Regions from separate parts of the Homo sapiens genome. Here region 1 is linked to region 2. A link means that fine-mapping ties the variant in region 2 to the expression of a gene that starts in the linked region. Tissue or cell type: lung. Region 2 holds a variant in brackets; the other region holds the start of a gene. All regions are shown on one strand. Distances are from middle to middle.

The links. PIP is the estimated chance that this variant, and not a neighbour inherited with it, causes the effect.
Region 1: it holds the start of ATP13A1, and the variant in region 2 is fine-mapped to the expression of ATP13A1 in lung (GTEx, PIP 0.98).

Annotation. Positions count from the first base shown.
Region 1 is chr19:19,659,937-19,668,030 of GRCh38, reverse strand. ATP13A1 (ATPase 13A1) reads left to right here and starts at 4,355. Exons shown (of 26, transcript NM_020410.3): 1 at 4,355-4,760; 2 at 8,044-8,094. The coding sequence starts at 4,365. RefSeq lists silencers at 3,869-3,918, 4,359-4,618 and enhancers at 4,019-4,308, 4,652-4,753, 4,025-5,007, 5,139-5,188, 5,889-6,368 and 1 more.
Region 2 is chr19:19,279,836-19,287,935 of GRCh38, reverse strand. It overlaps SUGP1 (SURP and G-patch domain containing 1), which reads left to right. Exons shown (of 14, transcript NM_172231.4): 9 at 7,645-7,751. Among named protein-coding and RNA genes, the nearest start is that of TM6SF2, 11 kb to the right of the region's middle. The variant T/C (reference allele first, on the strand shown) is at 4,377.

The DNA of each region.
Region 1 (8,094 bases), 380 kb before region 2:
TAACTGCAACCTCCGCTTTCCGGTTTCAAGCGATTCTCCTGCCTCAGCCTCCCGGGTAGCTGCGATTACAGGCGCCCACCACCACTCCCGGCTAATTTTTGTATTTTTAGTAGAAATGGGGTTTCACCATGTTGGCCAGGCTGGTCTCGAACTCCTGATCTCGTGATCCGCCGGCCTCGGCCTCTCAAAGTGCTGGGATTACAGGCGTGAGCCACCGCGCCCAGCCGCCTCCTGCTTCTTTTTCCGGAACACCGGTCACATGAGTGTGCACGGAATTCCAGACTCCGTGTTCAGTGAAGCCATCCCTCCACCTTGGAGCTGGAGAGACTCCCAGGTCACAATGGAACAGGTAGGAGGCCCTGATGTCCTCCAGAGATCAGGAATTTATGAGGCTATTGGTCCCATGGCCAAGGCTTCCTACACGTTACTTCTTCTCAGGCTACTCCTTTTCAGCCAAGAAAATAAAAACATGCCTTAAAGGGAACAAAATTATTAAATGCAGGGAAAAACTGGAGTAAACCACTTTTTTTTTCTTTTTTTTTGAGACGGAGTCTGGCTCTGTCGCCCAGGCTGGAGTGCAGTGGCACGATCTCAGCTCATTGCAACCTCTGCCTCCCAGGTTCAAGAGATTCTCTTGCCTCAGCCTCCCGAGTCCGAGTAGCTGGAACTACAGGCATGTGCCACCATGCCCGGCCAATTTTTTTTTTTTTTTTTTTTTTTTGTATTTTTAGTAGAGACGGGGTTTCACCGTGTTAGCCAGGATGGTCTCGATCTCCTGAACTCGTGATCTGCCCGCCTTGGCCTCCCAAAGTGCTGGGATTACAGGCATGAGCCACCGTGCCCGGCCTGGAGTAAACATTCTATAAAGGTATTGCTACCAGAAAGGGGTCCAGTCCCAGACTCCAAGAGCAGAAGCTTGGACCTTGTATGGGAAAGAATTAATATTGGAGAAAAAACTGAAAAAGTAAGTATATCGAACTGTATCATGGGACAGAAACATGTCATTCCTATTTTTACTGAAGATTATCTTATTTGATACTATGTGATTATTAAGTCCTATTACATTTCCTTTCTCCTTTTACGAAGTCATGTATCTTAATAATATGCAGCCGGGCACGGTGGCTCAGCCTGTAATCCCAGCACTCTGGGAGGCCCAGGCAGGCGGATCATGAGGTCAGGAGTAGGAGACCAGCCTGCCCAACATGGTGAAACACCGTCTCTACTAAAATTACAAAAATTAGCCAGGTGTGGTGGCGCATGCCTGTAATCCTAGCTACTAAGAAGGCTGAGGCAGGAGAACTGCTTGAACCCAGGAGGAGGAGGTTGCAGTGAGCCGAGATCACAGCATTGCGCCTGGGCGACAGAGCATGACTCCATCTCAAAAAAAAAAAAAAAAAAAAAAAAAAAAAAAAAAAAAAAAAAACCAGAGCCGGGCCCGGTGGCTCACGCCTGTAATCCCAGCACTTTGGGAGTCCGAGGCGGGTGGATTACGAGGTCAGGAGTTCAAGACTCAGCCTGGCCAAGAAGGTGAAACCCCGTCTCTACTAAAAATACAAAAAATTAGCTGGGTGCAGTGGCAGGCGCCTGTAATCCCAGCTACTCGGGAGGCTGAGGCAGGAGAATCGCTTGAACTCCGAGGGCAGAGGTTGCAGTGAGCTGAGATCACGCCACTGCACTCCAGCCTCCAGCCTGACAACAGAGTGAGACTCCGTCTCAAAAAAAAAAAAAAAAAAAAAAACCAGAATATGCAGTGGGTGGCCGCAGCGGGTCACACCTGTAGCACTTTGGGAAGTCGAGGCAGGCAGATCTCTTGAGGCCAGGACAGGAGTTCCAGACCAGCCTGGCCAACATGGTGAAACCCTGTCTCTCCTAAAAATACAAAAATTAGCAGGCATGGTGGTTCATGCCTGTAATTCCAGCTACTAAGGAGGCTGAGGCAGGAGAATCATTTGAACCCAAGAGGCAGAGGTTGCAGTGAGCCTAGATTGCAACACTGCACTCCAGCTTGGGCAAGAGTGAGACTCCGTCCCAAGAAAACAAAACAAGACTAGGACTGGGCACCGTGGCTCACACCTGTAATCCTAGCACTTTGGGAGACTGAGGCGGCCAGATCATTAGAGGCCATGAGTTTGAGACCAGACTGGCCAACATGGCGAAACCCGTCTCTACTAAAAACACAAAACATTAGACTGGGAGCGCTGGCTCACACCTGTAATCCTAGCACTTTGGGAGACCAAAGTGGGCGGATCACAAGGTCAGGAGTTCGAGACCAACCTGGCCAACATAGTGAAACCCCATCTCTACTGAAAATACAAAAAATTAGCCAGGCATGGTGGCACGCGCCTGTAGTCCCAGCTACCCGGGAGGCTGAGGCAGGAGAACCGCTGGAACCCAGGAGGCGTAGGTTGCAGTGAGCTGAGATCGCACCACCGCACTCCAGCCTGGGCAACAGAGTGAGACTCCGTCTAAAAAAAAAAGTACAAAAATTAGCCGGAGCGGTGGCATGCGCCTGTAATCCCAGTTACTTGGGAGGCTGAAATGGGAGAATCGATTGAACTCGGAAAGTGGAGTTTGCAGTGAGCGGACATCGCGCCACTGCACTCCAGCCTGGGCGACAGAGTGAGACTTCATCTCGAAAAATTAAAAAAAGAATATGCAACAATATAAGCTACAAAATTTAAATATCCAATAAATTTTAAGTTTAAATAAATTTGCTGTATCAGAGGACAAAAAGAAACATAAAATAGTTACTGTTTGTCACACATACTGTTTAATCCTACTAATTGGTACTGTTAAGTAGTCCTATTGTGGTTTTGTTCAAATAGCATTTATGCAACAGTACAGTTAATAATATAGAACTATATAATTTCTTTTTTTTTTTTTTTTCAGACAGAGTCTCGCTCTGTCGCCCAGGCTGGAGTGCAGTGGCGCGATCTCGGCTCACTGCAAGCTCCGCCTCCCAGGTTCAGGCCATTCTCCTGCCTCAGCCTCCCGAGTAGCTGGGACTACAGGCGCCTGCAACCACGCCCGGCTAATTTTTTGTATTTTTAGTAGAGACGGGGTTTCACTGTGTTAGCCAGGACGGTCTCGATCTCCTGAACTCGTGATCCGCCCGCCTCGGCCTCCCAAAGTGCTGGAATTACAGGGGTGAGCCACCGCGCCCGGCCTAGAAGTATATAATTTCAAGTAAACACCAGTTTTTCATTTTTTATGTTAAAGTGGTAATTTCTTTTTTTTTTTTTTTTTTTTTTTGGAGACAGAGTCTCGCTCTGTCGCCCAGGCTGGAGGGCAGTGGCACAATCTCCGCTCACTGCAAGCTCTGCCTCTCCAGTTCGCGCCATTCTGCCTCAGGCTCCGGAGTAGCTGGGACTACAGGCGCCCGCCACCACGCCCGGAGAATTTTTTTTTTTTTTTTGTATTTTTAGTGGAGACGGGGTTTCACCGCGTTAGCCAGGATGGTCTCGATCTCCTGACCTCGGCCTCCCAAAGTGCTGGGATTACAGGCGTGAGCCACCGCGCCCGGCCTAAAGTGGTTTTTGTAATTCATTTTTCTTTTTTTTTTTTTTGAGACAGTCTTGCTCTGTTGGCCAGGCTGAAGTGCAGTGGAGCAATCTTGGCTCACTGCAACCTCCGTCTCCCGGGCTCAAGCAATTCTCCTGCCTCATCCTCCCGAGTAGCTGGGATTACAGGCATGTGCCACCACGCCCGGCTAATTTTTGTATTTTTAGTAGAGACGTGGTTTCACCATGTTGGGTCTTGAACTCCTGATCTCAGGTGATCCACCCGCCTCGCCTCCCAAAGTGTTGGGATTACAGGCGTGAGCCACCGCGCCCGGCTAGTATTTGTAATTCTTATCTATCACATTAAGGCTCTTGTCCGGTGTGGTTGTGTTCCGGGGCGGTCCCCGACCCCGCCCCTCACAAGCCCCGCCCCCCGCACCGGGCCCCGCCTCCTGAACTCCGAAGCTCCCGACCCCGCCTCCGCAGGGTCCAGGCTTCGCCCCTGGTGACAGGTGGTGCTGGTGTAGTCAAGGAGGAGGGCTCGCTTTTTTTGGTTCAGGTTGTCATGGTGGCGCCCAAGCCCGCCTTGCCGGCCTTGTCTTTTCCGGTCTCAGTCCGGCGTGGCAGCGGAGGCAGGCACCGTTAGGTCTTCCAGTCCCTCTCTGTCATGGCGACGCCCAGCCTCTTCTTCCGGCCACAGCCTGTCATGGCGGCACCCGAAGTAGTCCCTGCCGGGGCCAGCCTGTTCTGTTGCCCTGGCTCTTCCTAGTCCAGGCTGCCATGGCGGCGCTCAGGGCTTACCGGAAGTAAAACTTCGGAAGTGAGGCGTTCCTCTGCCCGGAAGTGAGCGCGGCGCTAGGAAAGATGGCGGCAGCGGCGGCGGTGGGCAACGCGGTGCCCTGCGGGGCCCGGCCTTGCGGGGTCCGGCCTGACGGGCAGCCCAAGCCCGGGCCGCAGCCGCGCGCGCTCCTTGCCGCCGGGCCGGCGCTCATAGCGAACGGTGACGAGCTGGTGGCTGCCGTGTGGCCGTACCGGCGGTTGGCGCTGTTGCGGCGCCTCACGGTGCTGCCATTCGCCGGGCTGCTTTACCCGGCCTGGTTGGGTGCCGCAGCCGCTGGCTGCTGGGGCTGGGGCAGCAGTTGGGTGCAGATCCCCGAAGCTGCGCTGCTCGTGCTTGCCACCATCTGCCTCGCGCACGCGCTCACTGTCCTCTCGGGGCATTGGTCTGTGCACGCGCATTGCGCGCTCACCTGCACCCCGGTAAGTGTGTACACGCGAGCCCGACCCCCAGCACGGTCGAGCCTCGCCGTGGGTCCCAGCTGCGGCCTTCCTGTCGGTCACCATCGCGACCTGGGCCACTCATCTGCCTGGCCTGGATTCCCAGGGGCACCCTCTACACTTTGGCGCAGGCTTAATCATGACCCCACTGCTGACTTGCTGTGCATGCCTGGTGCGGGTTATTTCCTTTTTCTGAAGTCCTCCCTGTTATGGTCATTTAGATTCAGTGATGTAATACTTGTAAAAGGCTTAGCGCAGGGCCCAGCATACGTCGCCCAGGTCAGGTAGGAGTTGTTTATACTAGTTCCCATATTAGCGACTACTCTTGTTCTGGAAACGGCCCTACCTTCCATCTCATCTGTCTCCTACCTTGGTTTTCAAAGTGTAAGGCGAGATCACTGGGATAGGTTTCCCCCATCTATGAAGCTTAGTTGGTTCTTAGACTGAACCAAGTCTTGCTGTCCAGTGCTTAGTGGTCTTCCATACTGTGATGGAAAGGAGCATGAAATGCAGTTAATTACAGTGTTGAAGAGAGGCAGAGGTGTTTATGAGCGAGTCATTTACATGATGTCTTTCCGCAAAATGAGGGTGGTGATACTGAGTTCTGTCGGGGATACAACAGCAAGCAAGGTCGCGCTCCTGACCCACAGTTTAGAGTTCTGAGTGACCAAGTGTCGTCGGAGGAGTTGGTGACTGTGAGCTTCCCTGGGCCTGAAGCAGTGACTGTGTCGTCTCTCTCTGGGCCTGCCTCAGGTGACACCAGCAGGTTTGGAGCCATGGACACTGAGGTATATCAGGAAGCTTCCCCTCTGATTCCAGGAGTGTGTTTGCCTCAAGAAGAGGAAAAGGGAACAGCATCAAGGGCTACAGAAAGACAGAAGCCCCCCACCCTGGCTGGCTCTGAATGTGGGTAGAATCCTCATTCTCCTCTCCTGAGAGACAACCTGTTCTGTCCTTCAAAAAGACTTATCTATCCCAGGGGAGGAGCTCAACGTGGTAGCTTTGAGGTAGTACAATGAAAGACACCAATGAGGGACAAAATAAAGGAGGGGTTAAGGGGACTGTGGCACCGCTCAAACTTCAGCTGCCTTTTGACCTGCAGCTAAGCAGCTTAGCTCTTAACTTCCTCTCCAGGGATGGAGAAGTGGGAGGAGCTGAACAGCCATCAGCCAGGAGAGGTGGATCTGGGTTTGATTCAGATCTCAGAAAGGGCCGCTTCTGCTCTCTGAGTTTCAGTTTCCCCCTTCTGTAAACTGAGAACCGTAACTAACAACTACTGGGTGCCATCTTGAGAAGCGGAGATGATATCTGCAGAGTGCCCGCCCTGGGGCCATCACAGCGTATAGCCTCTTGTACCTTTCTTCCGTGACGTCACGTTTGTAGTTATGTGATTGTTGTTATTTGCTGCCTGCTTTGGAGGCCCATGAACCACCCGTGCGGTGGCGCTTTGTTTCTGCGGGTCATCATTGTGCTCCCCCCATCTCCATGCAGCTCGTCTCCATGCAGCTCGGTCTAGCAGAGCAGCAGAGGAATGGATGGCGGTTCACGGGGTCCAGGGAGCACTGAACGAGTTCCATTCAACATTTCTGTGTCTTAGGTGCTGGGGAAACAGCAGTGAACAAAACAGGCAAATCCCCCTGCCTTTGTGGTGTTACTGGGAGGGAGAACTCATAGTCAGCAGTTGATGCCAAACAGAGATGACATCTAACATCAGGACAGGATGGGACATTGCCGGGAACTTTAGATGGGGCAGCCAGGGAGGGGCTCCTGAGAAGGTGATGTTTCAGCAAAAGCCTGAGGCAGCAAGGGAGCTGTGTGACTGTGTATTCCGGGCAGAGAAAACAGCACATGCCAAGGCCCTTTGCTGAGGCACGATCGAGCCCCATGTGCGTGTGGAGCTGTGGAGTGTAGTGAGCAGGGTTGGTGGAAGAGGCAGAGCTGAGCAGGAGGCCGGGGGCCTGTGATGGGGCGGGGGCTTGGCTCACGTGAATTGAGGACGTACTGGGTGGGTGCCTGGCAGCGTTCTTCCTATTTGAGTTCATGTCACCTTCAGCAGAGCAGAGCCCTGGGCATTAGGTGCTGTCTGTGCACCCAGCTTCCCAGCTTTTTTTGTTGTTGTTTTTGTTTTTGTTTTGTTTTTTGGGGTTTTTTTGTTTGTTTGTTTGTTTGTTTTTGAGATGGAGTCTGGCTCTGTTGCCCAGGCTGGAGTGCAGTGGCACAATCTCGGCTCACTGCAACCTCCGCCTCCCAGGTTCAAGTGATTGTTCTGCCTCAGCCTCCCGAGTAGCTGAGACTACAGGTGCCTGCCACTATGCCCAGCTAATTTTTATATTTTTAGTAGAGACGGGGTTTCACCATATTGGCCAGGCTGGTCTCAAACTCCTGACCTCGTGATCCCCCCTGCCTCAGCCTCCCAAAGTGCTGGGATTACAGGTGTGAGCCACTGCACCCAGCCTTTTTATTTTGAGACAGAGTCCTGCTCTGTCGCCCAGGCTGGAGTGCAGTGGTGCAATCTCGGCTCACTGCAAGCTCTGCCTCCTGGGTGCACGCCATTCTCCTGCCTCAGCCTCCCAAGTAGCTGGGACTACAGATGCCTGCCACCACGCCCAGCTAATTTTTTGTGTTTTTAGTAGAGATGGGGTTTCACCGTGTTAGCCAGGATGGTCTCAATCTCCTGACGTCGTGATCTGCCCACCTCGGCCTCCCAAAGTGCTGGGATTACAGGTGCGAGCCACTGTGCCTGGCTGGTTTTTTGTTTTTTTTTTTTTAATTGAGATAGGATCTCACTCTGCCACCCAGGCTGGAGTGCAGTGTTGCAATCTCAGTTCACTGCAACCTCCGCCTCCCAGTTCAAGGGATTCTCCTGCCTCAGCCTCCTAAGTAGCTGGTATTACAGGTGTGCACCACCGTGTCCGGCTCATTTGTGTATTTTTAGTTGAGACAGGGTTTCGCCACATTGGCGAGGCTGATCTCAAACTCCTGATCTCAAGTGATCCGCCCACCTTGGCCTCCCAAAGTGCTGGGATTATGGGTGTGAGTCACCGTGCCCAGCCTTGTGCTCCCAGCTTTAAGTGTGGCACCAGAGGCACAGCAAGATGGTCTCGTTTGTCCTGATGACAGACGAGGGAGTGACAGAGGCAGCACCAGAGCCCAGTGGCATTTCAGAATATACCCATAGAGCTGCTGCACCCAAAACCTCCCGGGGGGGTCTTGGAACTGTAGGTTGAGAAGAGCTAAGCCACAATGCTTTCTTTGTCTCTGTCAGGAGTACGACCCCAGCAAAGCGACCTTTGTGAAGGTGGTGCCAACCCCCAAC
Region 2 (8,100 bases):
CTGCCGAAGAGGTGGAAGGAGAGACAGGCACTCTGTAACTTTATGGGAATATCTCACAATTTCTGCCTGACTTCTTTTTCATTTCCCTAAAAATGTTTATATACAGTATTATTCCTTCTTCTACCATTTACACTTAGTTCCAGTGCCCATGTCTCGGGTCCATGTCATAAAAGAAGTCAGAAACAGTCTCGAATAATGAGAATCCTCCTACCAGATTGTCATTTTCTTTTCTGGTGCTGCTGCCGCTTCTCCGGCTTCTTCCTCATCATCTGGCACTCATTTGGAAGCACTCCTTTCCATCCAGCTGTCTTCTGTTAATTTCTCCAGTGTGGTATCTGTTAGCTCTTCTATTTTTAATTAATTAATTATTTTTCGATTTGGAGTGTTTGTGTGTTGCCCAGGCTAGAGTCCAGCGGCACAATCTCAGCTCACTGCAGCCTCTGCCCCTCTGGTTCAAACGATTCTCATGCCTCAGCCTCCCGAGTAGCTGGGATTACAGGCATGCACCACCATGCCCGGCTAATTTTTTGTATTTTTTGTAGAGATAGGGTTTCACCATGTTGCCCACGCTGATCTCAAACTCCTGACTTCAAGTGATCCGCCCACCTCAGCTTCCCAATATGCTGGGATTACAGGTGTGAGCCACCTCGCCTCACCTATGTTTTGAGACACGGTATCACTCTGTCACCCAGGCTGGAGTGAATTGGCACGATCTCGGCTCACTGCAGCCTCTGCGCTCTGGGGTCAAGGGATCCTCCCGTCTCAGTCTTCCGAGCAGCTTGGATTACAAGTGTGTGCCCATGCCTAGCTAATTTTTGTATTTGGTAGAGACAGGGTTTCACCATGTTGCTCAGGCTGGTCTCTTACTCCTGACCTCAAATGATCCATCTGCCTCAGCCTTCCAAAGTACTGGGATTACAGGCGTGAGCCACTTTGCCCGGCCTATTTTGTTGTTGTTGTTGTTGTTGTTGTTGTTTTGCTTTTTTTTTTGGAGACAGAGTCTCGCACTGTCACCCAGGCATGTGCCACCACGGCCAGCTAGTTTTGTATTTTTAGTAGACATGTGGTTTCGCCATGTTAGCCAGGCTGCTCTCGAACTCTTGACCTCAGGTGATCCACCTGCCTCGGGCTTCCGAAGTGCTGGGATTGTAGGCATGACCCGCTGCGCCTGGCCAGACCTATTTTTTTAAATTTTTATTTAATTTTTATTTTTTTATAGAGACAAGAGATTTGTTATGTTGCCCGGGCTGGACTCAAACTCCTGGTCTCAAGTGATCTCCCCGCCTCAGCCTCCCAAGCAGTTGGGACCACAGACATGAGCCACCCATGTCCAGCTTTTTAGTTCTTAAATTTCTCCAAGATCTATCTTTTGAAATCCCTTACCCTCTACCCGTTTTTGCTGTCTCTACAATCTCTTTCACGATTTCCTTCATGGACTCTGTTATAAATCCCATGAAGTCATGCACATCTGAAGACAGTTTTCTCTAGCAGGAATTTATTGTTTCAGGCTTGATGGCCTTTCCTGTAGTGTAACCCTTCCAGACTTTCATAATGTTCGCTCTGCTGAGGTTCTCTTCCGTAGCTTTGATAATCCTCTCCATAGAGTACGTGTGTTATGAGCCTTGAGGGTTTTTACGACCCCCCAATCTAGAGGCTGAAGTAGAGACCTTGTTTGGATGCAGTAGACCACTTTGATGCCTTCAGTGTTAAACTCATGAAGTTCTGGGTGGCCAGGGGCATTGTCCAATATCAAAAGAACTTTAACAAGCAGTCACTAGCAAGGTACTTCCTGATTTCAGGAGCAAACCAATCTAGAAAAAGAATTTTTGTTGTCCAGGCATTTTTACCTCCTGCCTTGGCCTCTCAAAGTGTTAGGATTACAGGCGTGAGCCACCATGGCTGTCCTGCCCTGGCCTTCTTGTTGTATAACCAGAAGACGGGCAGCTGGTGTTTATCTTTTCCCTTTAAGACTCAGGGGTTAGCAGCTTCATAGATAAGGGCAGCCCCGATCATAAACCCAACTGCATTTGCACAAAACAGTAGCGTTATCCTGCCTTAAGTTCTGGTGCTTGGCCGGGTACGGTAGCTCATGCCTGTAATCCCAGTGCTTTGGGAGGCCGAGGTGGGCGGATCGCTTGAGGCCTGAATTGAGACCAGCCTGGGCAACATGAGAAAACCCTGTCTCTACAAAAAACCACAAAAATTAGCCGGGTGTGGTGGTGTTCACTTGTAGTCCCAGCTACTTGGAAGGCTGAGGTGAGAGGTTCACTTGAGCCTGGGAGATTGAGGCTGCAGTGAGCCATGTTCACGCCATTGCACTCCAGCCTGGACAAAAAAGTGAGAACCTGTGTCCAAGCAAACAGAAATAAATAAATGAATTCTGGTGTTTGCTCCTCTTCCTTACTAATGTCTTTTTTGGCTCCCCCACCCCAATAGGGCACTTATGTCTGCATTAAAAAACCTATTTGAGGCCGGGTACAGTGGCTCATGCCTGTGATCCTAGCACTTTGGGAGGCCAGTGTGGGTGGATCACTTGAGGTCAGGAGTTTGAAACCAGCCTGGCCAACATGGTGAAACCCCATCTCTACTAAAAATACAAAAAATTAGCTGTGTGTAGTGGCAGGCTCCTGTAATCCCAGATACTTGGGAGGCTGAGGCAGGAGAATCGCTTGAACCCAGGAGGCGGAGGTTGCAGTGAGCCACGATTGCTCCACTGCACTCCATCCTGGGTGACAGAGCAAGACTCCATTTCAAAATAAACCTGTTTGAGGCTGGGCACGGTAGCTCACGCCTGTAATCCCAGCACTTTGGGAGGCCGAGGCGGGCGGATCACGAGGTCAGGAGATCGAGACCATCCTGGCTAACACGGTGAAACCCCGTCTCTACTAAAAATACAAAAAATTAGCCAGGCACGGTGGCGGGCGCCTGTAGTCCCAGCTACTCGGGAGGCTGAGGCAGGAGAATGGCATGAACCCGGGAGGCAGCAGTGAGCCGAGATCACACCACTGCAGTCCGGCCTGGGCGAAAGAGCGAGACTCCATCTAAAAAAAAAAAAAAAAACAAACCTGTTTGAGCACATGCATATCTTTCCTTCTCAATGATTTTCTTAATGGCATCTGGGAACTCATCTGCCACCTCTAGGTGGGCAGAAGCTGTTGTTCCTGTTATCCTGACATCTTCTTAAAGCCAAACCTCTTTCTAAACCTGTCAAACCATCCTTTGCTGCCATTATATTCTCCAGCTTTCGCTCCTTCGCCTTGCTTTTGTTCTAAATTGTCATATAGTGACTTTGCTTTTTTCTTAAATCATATTAAACCTTGTAGGTGTGTCATTCTGATAGCAGTCCTATACACATAAAAACTGCATTTTCAAAGTGAGATAAAAAGTTACTTCACAGAAAGTGCAAGGTTTTCACACCTGTTGACATAGCTGCAATAACAGCTTCGTGAATTTCTCTTCTTCTTTTTTTTTTTTTAACAGTGGTCCTTATGCTGGATTCATTTATCTTGAAATAGTGGGCAACTGCAGTTGCAGACCTCAATCTATGGCACATATCAAACAATTCAGCTTTTTCTTGTAATGTCTTGACTTTTCTCTGCTTCTTGGGAGCACTTCCGCCATCACTAGTGGCACTTTTTTTTGAGATGGAGTCTTGCTCTGTTGCCCAGGTTGGAGTGCAATGGCACACTCTAGGCTGACTGCAACCTCCATTTCTGGGGTTCAAGCGATTCTCCTGCCTCAGCCTCCCGAGTAGCTGGGACTACAGTCACTTGACTAGTGGCAATTTTTATGGGACCCATGATGTTATTCAAGGTTTACTATATTGCACTAAACCTGAAAAATACTTGAGAACCCTGAGAGATGTCTCTTTACCGCAATATGCAATTTGCTAAAGGGACAAACAGCTTGTGCAGAGATGATCAGTGTCATGTGGTGTTTTAAGCAGATATTCTCAACACTTGAGCTCATTACAATAGCAACAGGAGGCTACAAAATGATTACAGTAGTACCGTGTGCACTACAGCTAATGTTATGCAGTTAAGATTTAATCTGCTAGGTGCAGTGGCTCACGCCTGTAATCCCAGCACTTTGGGAGGCCAAGGCGGGCAGATCACAAGGTTGGAGTTCGAGACCAGCCTGGCCAATATGGTGAAACCCTGTCTCTACTAAAAATACAAAATTGGCCGGACGTGGTGGCTCACGCCTGTAATCCCAACACTTTGGGAGGCCGAGGCGGGCGGATCAATGAAGTCAGGAGTTTGAGACCAGCCTGGCCAGTATGCTGAAACCTGTCTCTACTAAAAATACAAAAATTAGCTGGGTGTGGTGGCGTGCCACCTGTAGTCCCGGCTACTCGGGAGGCTGAGGCAGGAGAA[T/C]CTCTTGAACCCAGGAGGCGGAGGTTGCAGTGAGCCGAAGTCGTACCACTGCATTCCAGCCTGGATGACAGAGTGAGACTCTGTCTCAAAAACAGAAAAAAAAGAAGGAAAAAAAAAAACTAGCTGGGCATGGTGGCAGGTGCCTGTAGTCCCAACTACTCGGGAGGCTGAGGCAGGAGAATTTGTTTGAACCCGGGAGGTGGAGGCGGAGGTTGCAGTGAGCCGAGATTGCACCATTACACTCCAGCGTGGGTGACAGAGCAAGACTCCATATCCAAAAAAAAAGATTTCATCTACCATCTTTACATTTGTTTACATTTCTCTTGACTGCAAAACACATTATGTACAGTCTGTGTGCATAAGTTTTGATAAAGTTTAACTTTCTGCAATGTGTATATGTTTTATGGTAGTAAGTGATAAAACAGACTAGCATCTACATATATCTTATACATTCATTGACACTCCTAACTTTTTTTTTTTTTTGAGATGGAGTCTCACTCTGTCGCCCAGGCTGGAGTGTAGTAGCACGATCTTGGCTCACTGCAATCTCCACCTCCCGGGTTCACACCATTCTCCTACTTCAGCCTCCCAAGTAGCTGGGACGACAGGCGCCTGCCACCACGCCTGGCTAATTTTTTGTATTTTTAGTAGAGACGGGGTTTCACCGTGTTAGCCAGGATGGTCTCGATCTTCTGACCTTGTGATCCGCCCACCTTGGCCTCCCAAAGTTCTGGGATTACAGGCGTGAGCCGCCGTGCCTGGCCACACCTAACTTTTTCTTGATTTTTTTTTCAGTATTTCTAGGCTACGTGGTTCATCTGACTTTTTTCGAATTGTTGCAAATCTCCAAAAATTTTTTCAATATATTCATTGAAAGAAATCAGCATATTAAGTGGACCTGTATAGTTCATACCCATGTAGTTCAAGGTCAACTGTAATATCTAGTGTAGGTGTGCAGTAGGCGGTAGCATCTAGGTTTGTGGAGGTACAGTCTGTGATGCTCACACATTGGTAACGGCGCCTAATGATGCATTTCCAGAATGGTCCCCTCCATGAAGTGATTCCTGACTGTATTTGTGTCTTTGGGTCTGAATTGAGTCTCTTTTTTTTTTTTTTTAACATAAATAGAGATGGGGTCTTACTATGTTGCCTAGGCTAGTCTCAAACTCCTGGGCTCAAGCTATCCTCCCACCTCAGTCTCCCAAAGTGCTGGGATTACAGGCATGAGCCACCACTCCCGGCCAGTACTTGGATTCTTTCTTGTCACAGAAAGTTCAGGAGGCTGGGTGTGGTGGCTCACGCCTGTAATCCCAGCACTTTGGGAGGCCAAGGTGGGCAGATCGCCTGAGGTCAGGAGTTCAAGACCAGCCTGACTAATATGGTGAAACTCCGTCTCTACTAAAAATACAAAAATTAGCTGGATGTGGTGCCACGTGCCTGTAGTCCCAGCTACTTGGGAGGCTGAGGCAGGAGAATTGCTTGATCCTGGGAGGCGGAGGTTGCAGTGAGCCAAGATCGCACCACTGCACTCCAGCCTGAGCGACAGAGCAAGACTCCATCTCGGGAAAAATGAAAGAAAGTTCAAGAGACAGACAACGATAAGCACAATAATTACCACAGTTTTACACAATCACCTTTTCACCTCTCCCTTCTTAGCAGCAATTTCGGGGAGGGCCAGCCTATGGCCTGGTCTCTCATTTTCTTACCAAACCTACAAGGGTTGGGGGGTGGTCTCTTGTCATTGCATTCTGCAGATGATAATCAGTGACTGACACCCACTATCTCATGTCATATGGTGCCCCACTATGCAGCTATGCAGCCTGCACTGTGGAGCAGAAACATCACCCCCTCACTCCACCTTCACTGGCGCTCAACACACAGGTGCATGGAGGAGTCCGACGTGCCCTGTTGTGTGGCGCCATCACCTGTGTTTGCAAGATGAGGACAGGACCCCAAAAGGGAAGGCGACAGCCTTCCCAGGTCGGGTGGCCAGCCTCTTGGACCTGCTCGTCCAATTCAGGGATGATTGCTTTCTCGGTGCCTCCCTGGCCCCAAGGGCCTCAGAGATTCTAGGTCAAGGAGAAAAGCTACTGAATGAAGATTCTTATGCTTACCAGGGCTGTAGCCAGCAACTGCAGCCAGGGTGGAGGGTACCTAGGATTGGTTTGTCACTCAAGTGCCGAACCCTAGTGCTTAGATCCGGGTGCTTCAATGCGCACACACCCCAGCTCTGAGACACCCAGCAGGTGAAGAAGTCGCCCTGTGGCTTAGTTGGACAGAACAGGCTCCAAAGTCTGAGGCCCAGGTTCAAGTCCCACTGATCCATGTCCTCAGGGAGCATGGCAGCCCTCACCCGCCCGCTCATGTGGTGGAGTGGGCCTGGGGGAAAGGGACTGTGGGCATGCTCTAAGGCAATCAACCAGATGCTCAGACTTCGGCTCCTGCGTCTCCCCAACAGGGCTCCCCCACATCCCTCAGTGCCCTGTAAACCAAGGAAGGACTAAGAGTGCAAATGTGGGCCATTCTTAGCGGCAAAGCCCGAGTGTTGATGAGCTGGAAGGACCCAAATCTTTTCCCTTCCCAGAGGGCCCGCTGCACCCCTTTGCTCACCTTCTCCCCCGGGAAGCACCGCACCGCCCGAGGGGTGGTGGTTTCTGCCACCCGGATGGGGCTGTTGCAGCATCTTTCTATGTGTCAGTGTTACTGGAGCCTGCCAAGTTCCACAGCTGATGCCAAATTAAATGTCAGCTGCTCTGAGGATGGTTGGCTGCCTCCCCTGAAGGAGCTAAGGGAGTCGCACAGCTGAGTCTTACGCCAGACTCTGAATCTGTGCGCGCTTACACCTGGTGTCTGTTAGCAACGGAGCTGCCTTCTGAGAGCCCGTTTGTGCGTGCGCCCATGCATGCTGCCCACATGCCGTCTCAGCTCTCTTGTCTCTGGCTCTGCAAATTCCTGCCCTGTCACTCGTTAGCTGTGTGACCCTGAGTGAGTCCCGGAACCTCTGATTCTTGGTGTCCACATCTGCAATGTGGTGGTGCGTAGAGCCTGGCTGGAGAGGTCACAAGGACGTAAGATGCGGGGGTGCACGTGGCAGCACACAGCGGGACCCCGAGGCCGTCACGTACCACGTGGCACTGACAGTAATGATATGAGGTCCCCGTGTGCCTGGAGTGTCATGAAGGTGTGAGACTCACAGCACACCCCAGCGCAGGAGCGAGATCGGGGTGCACCTGTCAGGCTCTGACTACCCTGTGTCTTTGGTTTCCAGTTCAGGACCTCAAGGGGCTCGGCTATGAGAAGGGGAAGCCTGTGGGTCTAGTGGGCGTCACAGAGCTTTCAGACGCCCAGAAGAAGCAGCTGAAGGAGCAGCAGGAGGTAAGACTGCGGGGACAAGGGGACGGGGACATGGTCGGCGCCCATAGAGTGTTGTCCTCTACCCCCGGGTGCAGCGGTCACAGGGGTTCATGTGCTTCGCCAAGCTCCTGTGTTCAGGTGGAACCCATGGCCAGCGGGGAGGCTTCCAGGCAGGCAGGTCCCCCTGCCCCAGTAGGTGGCATGCCACCCCCCACTGCACCTGAGTGGCCTCTCAGCCTGCCTGGGAGACCACTGGCCCTTGGGGCGGCCCCGGTGGTCTGTGATCCTGGCCTGAGCTTTGTGGCTGCTTCTCGCCGCGCTCCAGGGCTGGTTCCCATGGGAGAGTCTACGTTGATGTTCTTTGTCCGCA